Linked DNA regions of Homo sapiens: regions 2, 3 and 4 are each reported to be linked to region 1. Evidence: microRNA targets listed by miRTarBase, many of them from high-throughput screens and not tested one by one. Region 1 holds a microRNA gene; each other region holds the end of a gene's coding sequence.
What was found. The annotated mature microRNA hsa-miR-302e reads UAAGUGCUUCCAUGCUU and lies in region 1 at 2,129-2,145, shown strand. An mRNA with a match to its seed (bases 2 to 7 or 8) in the 3' UTR can be bound and repressed. Matches are read on the target gene's strand: a 7mer-m8 pairs with bases 2 to 8, a 7mer-A1 pairs with bases 2 to 7 and ends in A, and an 8mer does both.

Region 1 (4,153 bases):
ATCCAATAGCCTGCTAGAGAAGCTCTCCAGCCAATGGCCCAATTCAACAGCCTGTGAGGAATGGAAACATCCAAGCAATCACATAAATGAGCTTGGAAGGGAAATTCTCCCCTAGACAAGCCTTCAGATGAGACCACAGCCCTGGCTTATAGCTCATCTACAACTTCCTAAGAAACTTTGAACCAAAAGTACCCAGCTAAGCCACACTTGGATTCCTGATCTACAGACACTGTGAGAAAATAAATATTTGTTATTTTAAGTTGATAAGTTTTGGGATAATTTCTTATGCAACAGTAGATAATTGATTCAATGGGAAAAATAATCAAGTATATGTTGCAGATAATTGACAACTTTGGGCAAAGACTATGTTTGGGATTCTAAATGGAATAAAACATTTAATAGAGTCAGAGTGTAAGAAATACAATGATATATGTTCAAGGATGCATCACAGTATAAAGCAACATGCCACAGGATACTATAGCAAAACATTCATTTTCATGATTTCACTTATTTCTTAAGGTACATATGCAATATGTCTTAGAAGAGACAACACAGAAGCTCAGCAGAGCCTCACTAGAAAACTCTGACTTGCCTTCCCTCACTTCCCAATGACCTAACATGAAAACGCAAAAAGTTACATAGGAATATTGGTTAAAAAGTCTGGTAGATTTCTTTTTTTTTTTTTTTTTTTTTTAACTCATTTTTATCAAAATTTGTGCAGTTGTAAAAATTTTTTTTTTTTTATTATACTCTAAGTTTTAGGGTACATGTGCACATTGTGCAGGTTAGTTACATATGTATACATGTGCCATGCTGGTGCGCTGCACCCACTAACGTGTCATCTAACATTAGGTATATCTCCCAATGCTATCCCTCCCCCGACCCCACCACAGTCCCCAGAGTGTGATATTCCCCTTCCTGTGTCCATGTGATCTCATTGTTCAATTCCCACCTATGCGTGAGAATATGCGGTGTTTGGTTTTTTGTTCTTGCGATAGTTTACTGAGAGTGATGGTTTCCAATTTCATCCATGTCCCTACAAAGGACATGAACTCATCATTTTTTATGGCTGCATAGTATTCCATGGTGTATATGTGCCACATTTTCTTAATCCAGTCTATCATTGTTGGACATTTGGGTTGGTTCCAAGTCTTTGCTATTGTGAATAGTGCCGCAATAAACATACGTGTGCATGTGTCTTTATAGCAGCATGATTTATAGTCCTTTGGGTATATACCCAGTAATGGGATGGCTGGGTCAAATGGTATTTCTAGTTCTAGATCCCTGAGGAATCGCCACACTGACTTCCACAATGGTTGAACTAGTTTACAGTCCCACCAACAGTGTAAAAGTGTTCCTATTTCTCCACATCCTCTCCAGCACCTGTTGTTTCCTGACTTTTTAATGATTGCCATTCTAACTGGTGTGAGATGATATCTCATAGTGGTTTTGATTTGCATTTCTCTGATGGCCAGTGATGATGAGCATTTCTTCATGTGTTTTTTGGCTGCATAAATGTCTTCTTTGTCACCACCAGGCCTGCCCTAAAAGAGCTCCTGAAGGTAGATTTCAAGTAAAATCACTAACAAAGGATGCTACGCGGTCCAGGGCTTTCACCTACCAGAGGATACAGAGGAGTCACTCTCCCCTCCAACCACACAAAACAGACTACAGAGGTCTTTTTATGTATGCTTTTAAGGAATTCCATTCCTGGGATTCAACATAGCTGAGGCATATATGGACAGATGGTGGAGCATTGTATCCAGAGATATCAAGATGAGAGGATAAAAGAAGAGAAATCGTTGAAGTTTCCTTGCTCTTATTAGTACATTTAAAAAAATCATAGTCCATGGGCTGTTACAACAAGTTCTCAATGTTTTCCATTTTTATATTTGCCTTGTTATAATCCTTAAAATTAATTAATCTTAAAATACATAATTGCCAAAGTTTTGTTCTATTTAAAACTGTGATTTTATTTAATATTGACATTACAAGTCCATTTCTGGAATCTGCCTGCCACAGAGGTTTGGTCCATCAGATAGTGTGGTTTCACAGTTAATAGAGTCTCTAGGCAGACTGCCTGGGTTTGAAACCTGGCTCTCCTAATTATTGGCTGTTTCACCTTGGGTAAGTGCTTCCATGCTTCAGTTTCCTTACTGGTAAGATGGATGTAGTAATAGCACCTACCTTATAGAATTATTTTGAGGAATCAATGAGTTATTATTTGTAAAGTGCTTAGAACAGCAACAGCTCCACAAATGGTCTCCTTCCCACTAATTCTGTAATAAAACAGCAAGTGCTGGGGGAAGGTGGGGGTGATGGGGGGCAAGAAAAGGAACCTGAAGCTTCTCCAGTGCATAGAAGTTTCTTTTGCCTCAGGAGTCATCCTGACCCAGAAACGGTGTTAGTGGTGTAACATTGGGCTACTTTGTGTTCGCTGGAAATCCCAGACTAATATTAATATTCATGGGATAGTCTCTGGAAGCCTAGACTTGGACCCACTTATACCTTAGTGCTTAAATTGTACAGACACTCAGACAGGTATGAATTAAACTTGGGTGGGGGGCAGCTTATTCGGCCATCAATTTTTATTTTATAGTTCTATGTGTGTGTGTGTTTTGAAAAACAAATGGTTCATTTTCTTGCTCCTGTGGGAGCAAAGCAAGTCATAAACTTAAAGCAAGTGTCTGCAAAAAACTTTCCAGGCACCAGTCTTTCTGACAGACAGAACATCATCTATTCAGTAGAAAAAGTCAAACTTGCTTGCTATCTTTTAATACTCAAAAACAAAAACAAAAACAAAACCCAACAACACTGAGACTGGTAGCTTTTCCATGGTTATCTCCATCTAAACCTTCATGAATAGATTCCTTCCTCCAGGAATAAGGAATGAAGACCTAGGACTGACAAGCAAGAAACATGAGCTCCATCCATGTTTGTTCTCTGGCGTAAACTCTGTAACTTGGAGGAAGGCTTTTGGTTTCTGAGGTTGGGCTGGGAATTCTGCAGGGCATAGACAACTTGCTCTCAATGGAGAAAACACACAAGCACACACTCAGAGAGACTCAGACAACTTGCATGCATACACACACAAAATTCTCACATGTAGACACACCTTCAAGATACACATTTACATTAATGTTCACAGGTCTAAGGTGTTAAGACTCAGGGAGGATCATGGAGGGGTGAGGGGCTTAGATCAGTTCAGAAGAGGAAACTTTTCAGATAGATTTCTGTCAAAGTAAAATTGAGGTGCAGAGCCCTCTTCGAGCCCTTCATCAAGATTCACAAAAATAAGGCATTAGGCTAGAAATAGCTCTCTGCAGGCATTTATATATACCTTTAAACTCCATTGTTTGAAGCCTATCAATTTGGAGTGCTGAATTCTACTAGATTCTAAGATATTAGAGTAAGATAGAAAGATGAATTTTAGTCAACCAATCAATGTGCACTCAATGGATGCCTACTACAGTCACAGGCAGTGCCCTCTGGGCCCTGGGATAGAGAGATGATTGAGATATTATCCCTACCCGATGATAGTCTAGTAGGGAAGATGAGACTAATACATATGAAACCAGCTAATCTAACTTCAACGTTAGACTATTAGAGCCCAAAAAGTGTCCTGCCTTGTCAAACATGCTATTTTGCCATTGAAATACTGCTATCCAGACATAGTAAGTAAATTTCTTATGGCCACATGATCAAATAATAGACCAGTTCTTCTAGAGAGAATTACTCTCTCCATCCCTTTGCATTGTTTTATAATTTTATAAAAAACTTTTACATGGCTCTGTGCTTTAACTAGGCATCTGCCTGTCTGTCCTTCCTTCAGGGATGTGATGCCCCACAGGTAAGAACCTGACCTTATACATTTAAGGAGCGCACAGTGACTGATAAGGCCATATTTAGCCAGGAGGTGCTCAACTCATCAGCCTTAAGTGATCGGAAAGGATCAAAGACAACAGTCCAGGGAATTCCTCTTGGCCAAGGTCGCCATTCATTACACCAGATAGCACAGGTAGTAAAGACCTAAATCTTGGATACAAATTCGAGGTAAGATATTTTAAACTTGGCGTAAAATTATAGACCTGTTTCTAAGCCCTTCTGTCTTCTTCTCCATTTTAAACTCAGTTGCTTTATAATTTTACATAAA
Region 2 (4,000 bases), not on the chromosome of region 1:
CCTTTAAAACAAAAAGCAATAAAATCCCACCCCTAAATCAGGCCTCAAAGTTCAAAGAAATGTTTAAAAATCCCCCATATGGGATCTGACATGAATGTCTATTATTGTCCCCCCCAAGTCTTCTCAAAAATCACTTTAAAATCTTGCTTTGAGACCCTAAGTTTTCTTGGAAATAAAATACATTTATAGATTGTTTTAAACCTACTGAATTTTACTATTTCTGCTTGCTTTCTTCCCATTTAATAAAATCAAAATAAAAAATTTTGACCAAATAAATATTTATTGAAAGGTCCTGCCACCAAAAAAGCTTCAGGTTTTTAAAAACATATAATCAAACAACAATGTTCTTCTGATTAAAAAAAAAAAAAGTACTTATTTAAATCTGAGGATCCTTATATGTTCAATAGAGGATTGTGGTGATCCTTTGTATTTTAAAAATATTATTTGTGGGGCCTACTTTACGTATCTCCTGTATAAAAACCAGCTTTCACTCCACATGAATAGAGAAGATGCTGAATACGCAGGAATCTGATTATCCCTCACGTGATTATTACCGGCCCCTCTGGGGCAATCTGCTTGCTCACTCATTCTGCCACCATTCTCTTCATTCAAGTGTTTAACAGCACATTTATCAAAGGCAGCTCTCCGATGCAATGTTTAACGAGTGTCTTCTCAGGAGTGTATCCGTGTCATTTATTCTTCTCATCCAGGTAAGCACGAACTTCACAGTACTACTAAAAATCTTCTTCAAATTATATTGATAATGGACTTATTTCTGACCGTTTTTGGATTTGGGAAAACTCTAATATTTGGATTACCAAATAACACTTCTGTAGATGCACTGATACCGAAGTTTATTTTTACAACCTGTAAACAGATCTGAAGTTTGAACAATCCCTAATTATAAATTAATACTAAAATGCAAACTTGCCAAAACAGTATAGATTGTTGTCTCAGTGAGACAGAGAAAACGAAATGCGAATACCGTGTTATGACTGTACTCTGGCTCGCACAGCAAATGTGCATCAGGAAGATGGGTCTACCTTGATGGTACATCATCCCTCCATGACCAGACCTAATACAAACTCCCTCACAAGTTTCCACCCATGGAAGCCCTATGGCCGATCAACAGAAGCAGTGGGAGTCACTTCTGGCTTTTTCTTTACTTAGACACAGGGTCTCGCTCTGTTGCTCAGGCTGGAGTGGACTGATGCGATCATAGCTCACTGCAGCCTCAACCTCCTAGGCTCAAGGGATCCTTCTGCCTCAGCTTTCCTAGTGGCTGGGACTATAGGCACACACCACCACACCAGGCTAATGGGAGTCACTTCTAAAGAAAACTCTCTAGATGGTTTTCCTTATATGCCTGTTAGCTGAGAAGAAAAGCCTCCTTCATATACAATCTTGAGACAAAAAGAGAAGAAAACAAAAAGCTCAGCTGTATTAACAGACATAGCAAGCAATTCTGAGGGAGCACAAAAAAGTGAGGCTGTTTCCTTTTTTTTTTTTTTTTTTTAACAAAACTAAGATGGACATTTCACACAACGCAGAGCTACGAGAACATCTCTTATGCTCCTTGCCATGGGATTTTAATGCCCCAAGGTTCATAACTACAGCAAAGAAAGTAAGTCAAAAATAAACTGAGCTTAAAGAAGGTGGCAGGCCAATTTTCCCAAAAAGACTGTGGACTGTGGGCTGCTGTGTAGCCTTTGCTACAAGGCTGAGGAAGCAGAAGAAAGATGAATTGGGCAATTGGTGATGAAAAGTATTTGCCATTTTCAAAGGCTTCTCAGTGTGGCCATAGATTTTGCTAGTCAATTTTTAAAAAATTATATTTTTAGCTCAACACACAGCTCTAAAGCAGGGTTCAGTGTAGTGTGTTCTCTACCGAAATGGTTATATACAGATGGTATGGAAATGGTTTTAAAGATTACTCATAAACTATCCTTTTAAAGAAAAACTAGACTCGGTCATATTTGTTAAAATGAGCAATGTCACCAAACAGAAATGTAGGTGGGAAATACTGAACCACAAACATTTGGAGTTGCAGGCATAGACTAGCAGAGCATGAATAGTCATCACTGTTTCTATAATACTGAAACACTCAAATCTGTTTCTGAGGTTTAAAACACAGAGCTATATTATATTCATAAACTTCCCCCTCCACTTAAGTTATATTTGCCTAACACATAATGGACAAATCAATAGAGCCAAAGCAAATTTGCAAAAGGCTCAGGTCAACATGAAAATTTTAACCTTAGTATTAGGAAACTCTTAGAATACTTACAAATTAAAAAAACACACAATAAAACACACATACACATATAAACCAGTGCAATAAGAACTTTAGACAAGGGCAGTGCATCTCTGGTTTAAGAAAACCTATTTGTAGCTTGATTATAATAAATTAACTCTATTCTAGATGATGGTTTAATTTTACAAGCAGCATTTGAAACACATTGTATATGTATGCTCAAAACCTGAAAACCAATTCACCAGTAACAATTCTCAATCAGTAACAAATTCCTACTTTAATTGTATATTGCACATACTTTTAGTGTCTACGTTAAAATAAATTTAACTCTTCTTAATGTAAATATCGGAGGACCATACCTGTTGCCCTTGTAGAAATAATTTACCTTGAATAACAGATTTTCCTTTCTTGACAAACAAGAATGAGAATAGATTTCAGCTTCGTTAGTCCAAAACTATTTTAAAGAAAATGGCTATTTTATGTGGCGAAGACACTGGAAATGGATTGTTAAACACAAAATCCTTGGTTTATCCATTGTTGCCATTTTGAAAAACATTTCTATGGTCAGAGTGTTTAAAAGTCTGACCCTTTTTTTAAACCACCAAATAGTCCCTAGAGAGATTAGCTGTCTCCTTGACTGCTCTAGAATGCTGTTTGGAGAGTGGACACAGAGAAAAAGCTTTGGATAAAATGGCATGAAACACAAATGGCATTAAATAGGTCATCTATTTCACGTAAAAATAAAATGACTAGCACCTCCTTCCGGCTCCCAAAGTGACAGGCCCTAACAGGCCACATGAAACATGGTTTATGATAGTAAGTTTCATTATTCATACAGTATTGAGAAATCCATTACATTAGGGGGGTCCCACATCTAAAGCCTTCACTTCAAGGCTACCGTGTAAAAGTGAACTGAAGGGCACAAGGAGAGAACGGCGGACACAGGCCCAAGAAGGTCCTTGCGAAGGGTGCGAGGAGACCTTTCAGGGACTCTCCTGCATCCCGTCCTCTGTTTCCAGTTCTGCCAACTGCCTTCGAAGGATATTGACTTTTGCTTGTAATTCTTTATTATATTCAATGATGTTAACCATTTCTTCATATGCTTCATCCAAATACTTAGAGGATCTATTCCAACGTAGGAAAATACCTATTGAATCCAGGAATGGAAAACAGAAGCAAGAAAGGTATATACAATGGATTAAAATTACATTTGTGGATAAGATGTAATTTATGTATTATACATTCTTTTTTCTTTTGTTGCCACAACTCACATCTGTATTTTATTATACTCTAAAATATACAGGAATCTTGAGGTACTGAAAAGGATGCAATTGAATACAATATTTGAGAAGTCACTACTTGTATGTACATGCTCATTGATTCTTCAGAAATATCCCACAAAATTATCAAATAGATCCAAATACCATTTTATGATATATTCAGGAAAACAAGATGATAATTTGCAATGTCATAAACTTTCCAATTTCACAATATAAATCACTTATTTTTATAATTATAGAATATTGCTCAGACATGTAAGATCCCTTAAATGTGTGAAGCCATTTTCACCTGAAAAGTGACAACTACAGTAAAAGCAGAACCACATATGTTGTTATTTGAAAGCCTGAACTGTAGCCCACGTGCTTACATGCCTCTCTCCCTGTTACTTGAGAGGCAATCTTTCAATTCTGCAGGCAATTTCTTCTTTCCCCAAATAATAATAATTATCCTTTTATTATGAACCAA
Region 3 (4,000 bases), not on the chromosome of region 1:
ATATCTTGGAAATAATATTTGTCAAGCATTAACTCAAAGATCTTTACTACCTTTACAGAAAAAAAAAATAGCTCTTTTCTTTTTCCTTTTGCAGGAGAAAAACCCTACAAATGTACATGGGAAGGGTGCACATGGAAGTTTGCTCGGTCTGATGAACTAACAAGACATTTCCGAAAACATACTGGAATCAAACCTTTCCAGTGCCCGGACTGTGACCGCAGCTTCTCCCGTTCTGACCATCTTGCCCTCCATAGGAAACGCCACATGCTAGTCTGATTGCCTCTGTGTCCTGCCTCAGCGTGACTCCCCACTCACCTGGCTCTCTCTCTGTCCTGCCTCCCATTATCTAACACATTTTTTACATGTACATTTTAATTTGATTCAGCTGGTCTGAATCTCTGAATTTATATCATCCAAAACTTCCATATGGTCAGTAGTAGATGTTCTCTAATCCTCCCTCTCCTTACCACGGGTCAGACCTAAAGAATGTGAACACTTTTTTTTTTTTTTCTGGGGATGCTAAGCAAACCCTTCTTACAGATACGTTTAATGTAATAAGAACAAGGGAACATGTAAACTAACATAACCAATTGTCAGTTCTCCATGTATTCCTCAAAAGAATGTCAGAGTAAATGTATTAGAAATACAGTATCCAGACTGCTAGTCCTTGCCAGAGACATTCTTACCTCTGCCCTGTGATAATATTTTATGCTTGACAGTGAAAACAAGTGTGGCCCCTTGCACCGGTTAGCTAGAAGTACAGCCAGATTTCAAGCTAGTGCAGTCACCTCTTCCGTCATTCTTCACAAATCTTGTCAACCTGGATCTTAGACTTCATCTGAATCGAGTTCTTTGCCCTCCTTTGTGCCTGCAGCTCATATGGAGGTCTTTGCCACCAATGGGAGATGAGCCCAAACTTTCGATCTAGGTGGGTGATGTGTAGCAGTTCAAGGGAAGGGTGCTGTGTTTTCATAGCATGGAGTCGGAGGAGAGGGCCATTTAGCAGGGGGAGCAGAAGAGGCAATTCCTCCTGGGCTAGGGGTTGTCAGTGAGGTTTCAACATTTTGTTAGCTGTGTGCAGCATTCCCAGAGCTTCAGTCTCTGTGCATACTCAGCTTTGTAGAACCATGCTGCAAAGCCATATACCGATGGGGTTATCCATGCAACTATCTCCATTCCTACAATGTCCTTAATATGAGATCATCAAACATTGATAGTAGGGACTCCATGGAATATTTGCCCAGTAATGGTAAGAAATCTTTCGGGTAAGAGTATGGATGGTTCTTCTTTTACCCAATCTGCTTATAGCTTTTTTTGTAAACAGGGAAATGTTGAGTGGTACTTGTATTCCCTTATCAAATTAATCACATAGCTTTTATACAGAAACTCTTCCTGTGTGAGCTGTTAAGGTGCCAAATTGGCTGTCATTTGTATTCATGACACATACCATAAAGCATCTGCTAATGCTTTAATGGATTGATTCAATTAAGACCTGAGTGACACTATTTGTAAATATAACTAGTTGTGAAGCACACATACCTTTATTTTGGGAATTTATGAGAAAATATAGAAAACCACAGATCAGGGATTCATATATGTAGCTCAAAAATTCCCAAAAGTTTACTGTTAGAGTTGGCAATTTCCTATCACTATTTCAGTGTCAGAACAAACTGAAAATAATGGCTCGTGTTTATGTTGAAGATAAATAGCACCATTATTGGGGGAAGTTATTCAAAAGCAGGCTTTTGAGCACCATAGTCTAAATGCCAATAAAAATAATTCATACATAGAAATGTCATTGGTCCTGAATTTGAAGAAAGTGAGCAACAGTAGTTAAATGTGGGTGCATATAACCAAATTCCCCTTCATCAAGAATGGAGGAGAAGAGAGAAGAATGAAATCCTGAAGATTCATCCCAGCCGCAACTCAGGATCCAACACAACTTTAACTGGGAGGAATACATTGTTTGATCATTTTTAAAACATCTGTGAATGAGTGATTCCGGAGGCCTGTGAATTGTGTGGGGAGCTTGCTTTGATGGCACTGTGTTAATAAAAGTTGTAGGGACTGTGCACCTAAGAGGCTAAGAGGTCCCACTCATCCGCCCTGTGAACCAGCTGTAAAGAAATGTAGTTAAGAAATGCAAAGAAATGTGTTATCTTGGCACTTGGGTTTGATTTTCCTTTTTTTAAAGCACTGCAAAACTTCTTTAGGATACTAAAACATCCTAATTGGGCTGTTTTTTTGTTTTGTTTTGTTTTTCAGCTAAAGGCAAAGATAATTTTTTTTTCAGCTGAAGTTTTTCTTTTTTGCAACTATGACATGAATTGAGTGATAAAATGGCTCTTTGAAAAGTAGATATTGTCTGTATTGTAAATGCTTAGTCATATTCATGGCAAAGTGTTCATTTCTTGAGATGGTTCTTTCACAACACACAAGAATCAAGATGGAACGCAAGGAAAATCTTTTTGTTTTGACCGAGGTAACCAGTTTATGTGTGTTCCAATCCATAGAGAAGTGGGGGAAAGGGCGAGAAAGGATCAGATTGATCTGGGATCAGCTTTGAGCCTGAGTTCAGTGAATAGCCTCATGGGCATCTCATGGAATTGATGCATTTGCTGTGGCATATTTAAATTTTGTTCAAAAGATTTGAAGCAAGACCTTGCAAAGACTCTTAACATTACTGTTCAGCTTGCTTAGATTGTGTTAACAGTTCATTTAACAAAGATCCGTTTTAACTCTGAACAAAAGCAACCCAGAGCGGCCATTCTCTATTCCCATGCTGGTCAATACGCTTTCATTACCAATTGGCCCTTACCAAACTTTTCTTATATATATATTTGTATTTTACTATGATAGTTGAGAAATTTAGCCTCTTAGTCATTTTTAGCTGTTATTGTGGAAGACCTCAAATACAAGATTAGATGCCCTTGAACATGTTTTAATGATGTGTGTCATGTTACTATCAATGGTGATTTCAATCGCAATATTTTAAATTGATGAGAATGATTTGTAAACATGAAGTTACTATTACGTAAATTCTGTTTGTTATAGAGTTTCTTCAGTTGTTACCCAAGTGTCATCCTAGAGAAGTCAGAAGAATCAGAATCCATCGTATTTTAGAGTTATGTGAATCTACATCATAAATGGGCATTAACATTCTAAATTGCTTGGTTTGGAGAATGTGTTAGCAGCATAGCTATATTCAACTAGGGAGATGCTAAATACACAGAAGTTTCAAGAGCCTTGGAACAGAATTACAGGGGAACTATATATGTATATGTATATTTTATTAAACACCCATCTGCACTATCAGTATTGCACTAATGTGGAATTTGAAAGACTATTTTGCTGATACTGTATATATGCGCATCATTCCTGATTAGATTGTTGTAAAGACAATCTGAAAGATCTAAGGTTTTAAAATAATTTGGTTTGAAAATATACAGTTGTCTTGAAGGAATTGCTGTCATACATGAAGTTGCTCCGAGCTGTCTTTATTCTCTTCTTGGTCAAGGTTAACAATTGCTAAATGATCGCAAATTCACCTAAACAATACATTTACAAAGCCATCTTTACATGCATTAAACGAGGGCTACAACAATATTGTTTTACAAATACTAGCACTTTTTTTTCTGTTATGTACTTAGTGTTAGAGGGTCAAAATAATCTTTCTGCTTAGCATCTCTTAAACCATACCTGCAAATATAGCAGGATTATTACATTTACAGTACTTTAATACTTGTATAAACTATGCAGAAATTTTTAATAAAGTGTAATATATTTTATAAGCTAATAAGACTGAATGGGTAAAGGTTTTTAGCATGCATTAGTATACTTGCAGATACTGAAACATTTTGGTAATCTTTCTTACTAAAGATGTGAATGTTTAATGTACCTTCTCTGTTTCTACTCTGTAGTCCAATGGGAATTCAGTAATGACATTTTGTCATGTCAAACTGTGAACATAAATTTGTACTGTACAGTCCTCATATACTAT
Region 4 (4,000 bases), not on the chromosome of region 1:
AATCAGTTCTTACAGAATTCTAAATGGGATATTTGGCTTCCCAAGATAAATTAAAGAACACTATATGAAGAATTGACATATGATGTGTTTGCTTAAAAATGCACTCTGCAGCTGGGCATGGTGGCTCACACCTGTAATCCCAGCACTTTGGGAGGCCGAGGCAGGCAGATCATTTGAGGTCAGGAGTTCAAAACCAGGCTGGCCAACATGGTGAAACCCTATCTCTACTAAAAATACAAAAATTAGCTGGGTGTCATGGTGTGCACCTGTAATCCCAGCTACTTGGGAGGCTGAGGCAGGAGAATCGCTTGAACCCAGGAGGCGGAGGTTGCAGTGAGCTGAGATTGTACCACTGTACTCCAGCCAGGGCGACATGTCAAAAAAACAAAACAAAACCAAAGCACTCTGCAAGCTTCCTGGCTAACTCTTGTACATTGCAGCAGGGGAAGTTTGATGCCTCTGAGGGCGATGCCAAAGCCAGGCGGGCTGCTGGGGTGTGAGCATGGAGTAAATGCAGCAAGGTCACAGATGACGGATGATGACTGCGGTGGGAAAACCCACATAGCGGCCTGCAAGCACGTCTCAGGAAGAGCTGTCTTGCTAGGGGCAAACTTACGGTAAAGGATGACGCCATCATTTGATAAAATGTTCTGTCATGCTTTTAGTGGCGAGTTTTTAACAATAAAGCAAAACACTCACCATGAACCAAATGTTAAAATCAATGTCAACCAAGTCACATCATTTCCTGTTCCACTTGGTTTTGAAATTCAACTTCTCCTTTATTTAAAAATGACATCAAAACCAGTCTTCTCTTGAAGAGGTAATTTAGGAAATGGAGCAATTTACTGTGGTTTTAGAGGATGTAAAGTGCTCCGTGCAGTTGGACATGTACAGGGCAGCAGCTGGAGGCATGAGGACGTAGAGCCGTCATTCAATGTGGTCCCCGGGCCAGCAGCAACTGCACAACATGGGAGCTCCTTAGAAAGGCAGGATCCTGGACCTCACCCTGTTTCAGAACCTACATCTTTTTTTTTTTTAATTTGCAAAAATTTATTCATATACAAATGTGCAATATCAATAAAATGACCAAACAGGTTTGTTCTTGAAACATTTTCAATTGAATGGGAATTAAATGCTTTTGAAAAGTGACAAAATGATCATACAGTGAAGTTGTCTCTTTCTTTATATAACAAGCATAAATCAAGTACTAACTCTTGATTTTACTCTGAATTAACCATGACATACTAAATGAACTTGGGCTTCAGGCAGAACCTACATCTTAAGGCGAGCTCCAGGCGATGGGTATGCACATTAAGGCTTAGGAAGCACACTGTTCTAGGTTAACAGCTCAGGTCTCTGGGCTTAGCACTACAGGGAGAACGTGACTAGGAAGTGCAGACTTGGGTTCTGATCTCAGGCTTACCACTAAATATCTGCTGTTTCCCACAGCCCTGCCCGCTTCTCAGGACTGTGGGGGACCAAATGGGATCCTTATTAACAAGGTCCTGTAAGATCTGGGTCCAGCCTGCCTCAGACCTTATCATGTAATACTTTCTATTTTGAGTTGGGCTTTCTAACCAGGCTGACCTCAAGTAGAGTTTGTTTCTGCCTCAGGGCCTTTGCACAGGCTGTTTTCTCTGCCTGGAACACCCTCCCTTTTGACCTCTGCACTGCAGCTGCCTCCTGTTAATCAGATCTCAGCCTAAATGTTGTCTCTCCAGTGAGACCCTCCAGGGACTGCACGAGTATCAAATACCTTTGTCAAGAAATAAAACCTCCCCAGGCCGTGCGCAGTGGCTCACGCCTATAATTCCAGCACTTTGGGAGGCCGAGGTGGGTGGATCACCTGGGGTCAGGAGCTCGAGACCAGCTTGGCCAACATCATGAAACCCCATCTCTACTAAAAATACAAAAAATTAGTTGGGTGTGGTGGTGTGCACCTATAATACCAGCTACTCGGGAGGCTGGGGCAGGAGAATCTCTTGAACCCAGGAGGTGGAGGCTGCAGTGAGCCGTGTTCACACCACTGCCACTCCAGCCTGGGTAACAAGAGGGAAACTCCGTCTCAAAAAAGAAAAAAAAAAAAGACCTCCCTTGCTTTCCCCTACTGATTTCTCTTGGAAATGACAGCAATGTTACCCTGATTACTCTCGCAGCCCATACCCTGCAAATGGAAATCTGCCAACTTCAACCAGGAAGAAAAGACTGGAATGCAGGTTGCTTTTTATAGCATTTCAAGGAAAGATCATTCATTCACTGCCTATACATCCTTCCTTCCGGCATCACTGTGAGACTCTGCATGCACATTAATTTCATCCATTCCTCTTGAAAAAGTGAAGGACTTAAACCAGAAAAGCGGCCACAGGTCACAATACAAGATGGTTAACGTCACTCCGTTAACAGTGCCTTGGCCAAGGACAGCCAGATGGCCCGGAGGCTGACTTGGCAAAGCTGCTGGAGAGTTGGGGAGGGCTGCGGGTTAACAGCAGGGAGCACATACTTCATTAAACTACAAGCCGGGAGCCGTCCAGAGGTGCCTTCTGCTGCAGAATGGAAATTTAATAATGGTTTATTGGTTTAGTTGTGATTTTCAATTAAGCACGACAGAAATTGGTTTTAAGTCCAATATTAGAGGTTCTAAAATGTTAGTTTACACAGTCTAATGATGTATGACGGGAGAAGGCCACAGCTGTTTTCTTTAATCTATTTACAATCTTCGCAGCAGAAAGGCTAAATGAACTCTCCTACCATTATCAGGTCAGGGCTAAATGCAGCCCCGATCACAGGCAGTGATGCCTTCTTATGAACTACTTCTGCCTGACTTTCCTTAGCTCAGAAAATACTACAAAGGGAAAAGGCGTGCTGAGAGCCTCTGCTGCTCCGCCAAGTGTGCAGAACAAACAGTACAATGGCCCCATCTACTGACACGGGCTAAAACAGCAGACAGGACATGCAGCAACACAAGCAATCCTGCCTCGAGCTCCGCTTCACGCCCGTGACCCACAGCACTGCTGAGGAATGTCTGATGCCTAGTAAACTACTTTATTATTGTCCTCAGGCACAACGTGATACGAGGGGTTTCTAGTATTTTCTCTACGGTTCCAGGTCTTCATTCTTGTTTACGCCTAGTGTGTTTTTTTTGGAAATGGAGTCTCGCTCTGTCGCCCAGGCTAGAGTGCAATGGCACGATCTTGGCTCACTGCAAGCTCCACCTCCCGGGTTCACACCATTCTCCTGCCTCAGCCTCCTGAGTAGATGGGCCCGCCACCATGCCTGGCTAATTTTTTGTATTTTTAGTAGAGATGGGTTTAGTAGAGATGGGGTTTAGTAGCCAGGATGGTCTTGATCTCCTGACCTCATGAGTTTATGCCTAGTTTGTTTTTTTTTTGTTTTTTGTTTTTTTTTTTGAGACAAAGTCTCACTGTCACCCAGGCTGGAGTGCAATGGCACGACCTCGGCTCACTGCAACCTCCTGCTCCCAGGTTCAAGCGATTCTCCTGCCCCGGCCTCCTGAGTAGCTGGGATTACAGGTGCACACCACCAACACCCGGCTAATTATTTTGTATTTTTAGTAAAGATGGGGTTTCACCATGTTGGTCGGTTGGTCTCGAACTCCTGACCTCATGATCCGCCCGCCTCGGCCTCCCAAAGTGCTGGGATTACAGGCTTGAGTCACCATGCCTGGCTGTTTATGCCTAGTTTTAAATTAGCTGGACAGCTCCAGATGCAACCAGAGGTGCAATGGTTTTGTATCGGATCAAGTGCTGTGAGCCCTTCTCCAGGTCAATCACGTAGTCCCTGAAAAAGAGGGAAACACATTTGCCTGCAGAGCTCGGCTGGCCCTCCATCGGGAGGAATGTGCCCACTGTGAAAGATGCACGCCACTCACCTCTGCTCATCTGTGTCTGGTTCTACCAGTATGTTTTCTTGTCGTTCTCTCACTCTCAGAAACACGTAAGAATCTAGATCTGGTTTGGGAACTGCCAGGAAAACAACAATG

Region 2: the mRNA of MTMR9 is a reported target of hsa-miR-302e. The part of its 3' UTR that is shown has no 7-base or 8-base seed match.
Region 3: the mRNA of KLF3 is a reported target of hsa-miR-302e. Seed matches in the 3' UTR shown: 7mer-m8 at 3,623-3,629.
Region 4: miRTarBase lists GINS4 as a target of hsa-miR-302e. Seed matches in the 3' UTR shown: 7mer-m8 at 3,649-3,655 and 7mer-m8 at 866-872.

What each region holds. Positions count from the first base shown.
Region 1 is chr11:7,232,643-7,236,795 of GRCh38, forward strand. MIR302E (microRNA 302e) reads left to right here and starts at 2,124; the gene lies at 2,124-2,195.
Region 2 is chr8:11,322,026-11,326,025 of GRCh38, reverse strand. MTMR9 (myotubularin related protein 9) reads right to left here. Exons shown (of 10, transcript NM_015458.4): 10 at 1-3,401. The coding sequence ends at 3,238. It overlaps MTMR9-AS1 (MTMR9 antisense RNA 1), which reads left to right and starts at 598. Exons shown (of 2, transcript NR_189628.1): 1 at 598-710.
Region 3 is chr4:38,696,988-38,700,987 of GRCh38, forward strand. It overlaps KLF3 (KLF transcription factor 3), which reads left to right. Exons shown (of 6, transcript NM_016531.6): 6 at 95-4,000. The coding sequence ends at 276. Among named protein-coding and RNA genes, the nearest start is that of KLF3-AS1, 34 kb to the left of the region's middle.
Region 4 is chr8:41,541,789-41,545,788 of GRCh38, reverse strand. It overlaps GINS4 (GINS complex subunit 4), which reads right to left. Exons shown (of 8, transcript NM_032336.3): 7 at 3,890-3,980; 8 at 759-3,798. The coding sequence ends at 3,702. All of the region lies in intron 1 of GPAT4-AS1 (GPAT4 and GINS4 antisense RNA 1), which reads left to right. Among named protein-coding and RNA genes, the nearest start is that of GINS4, 15 kb to the right of the region's middle. RefSeq lists enhancers at 349-438, 499-648, 2,613-2,842.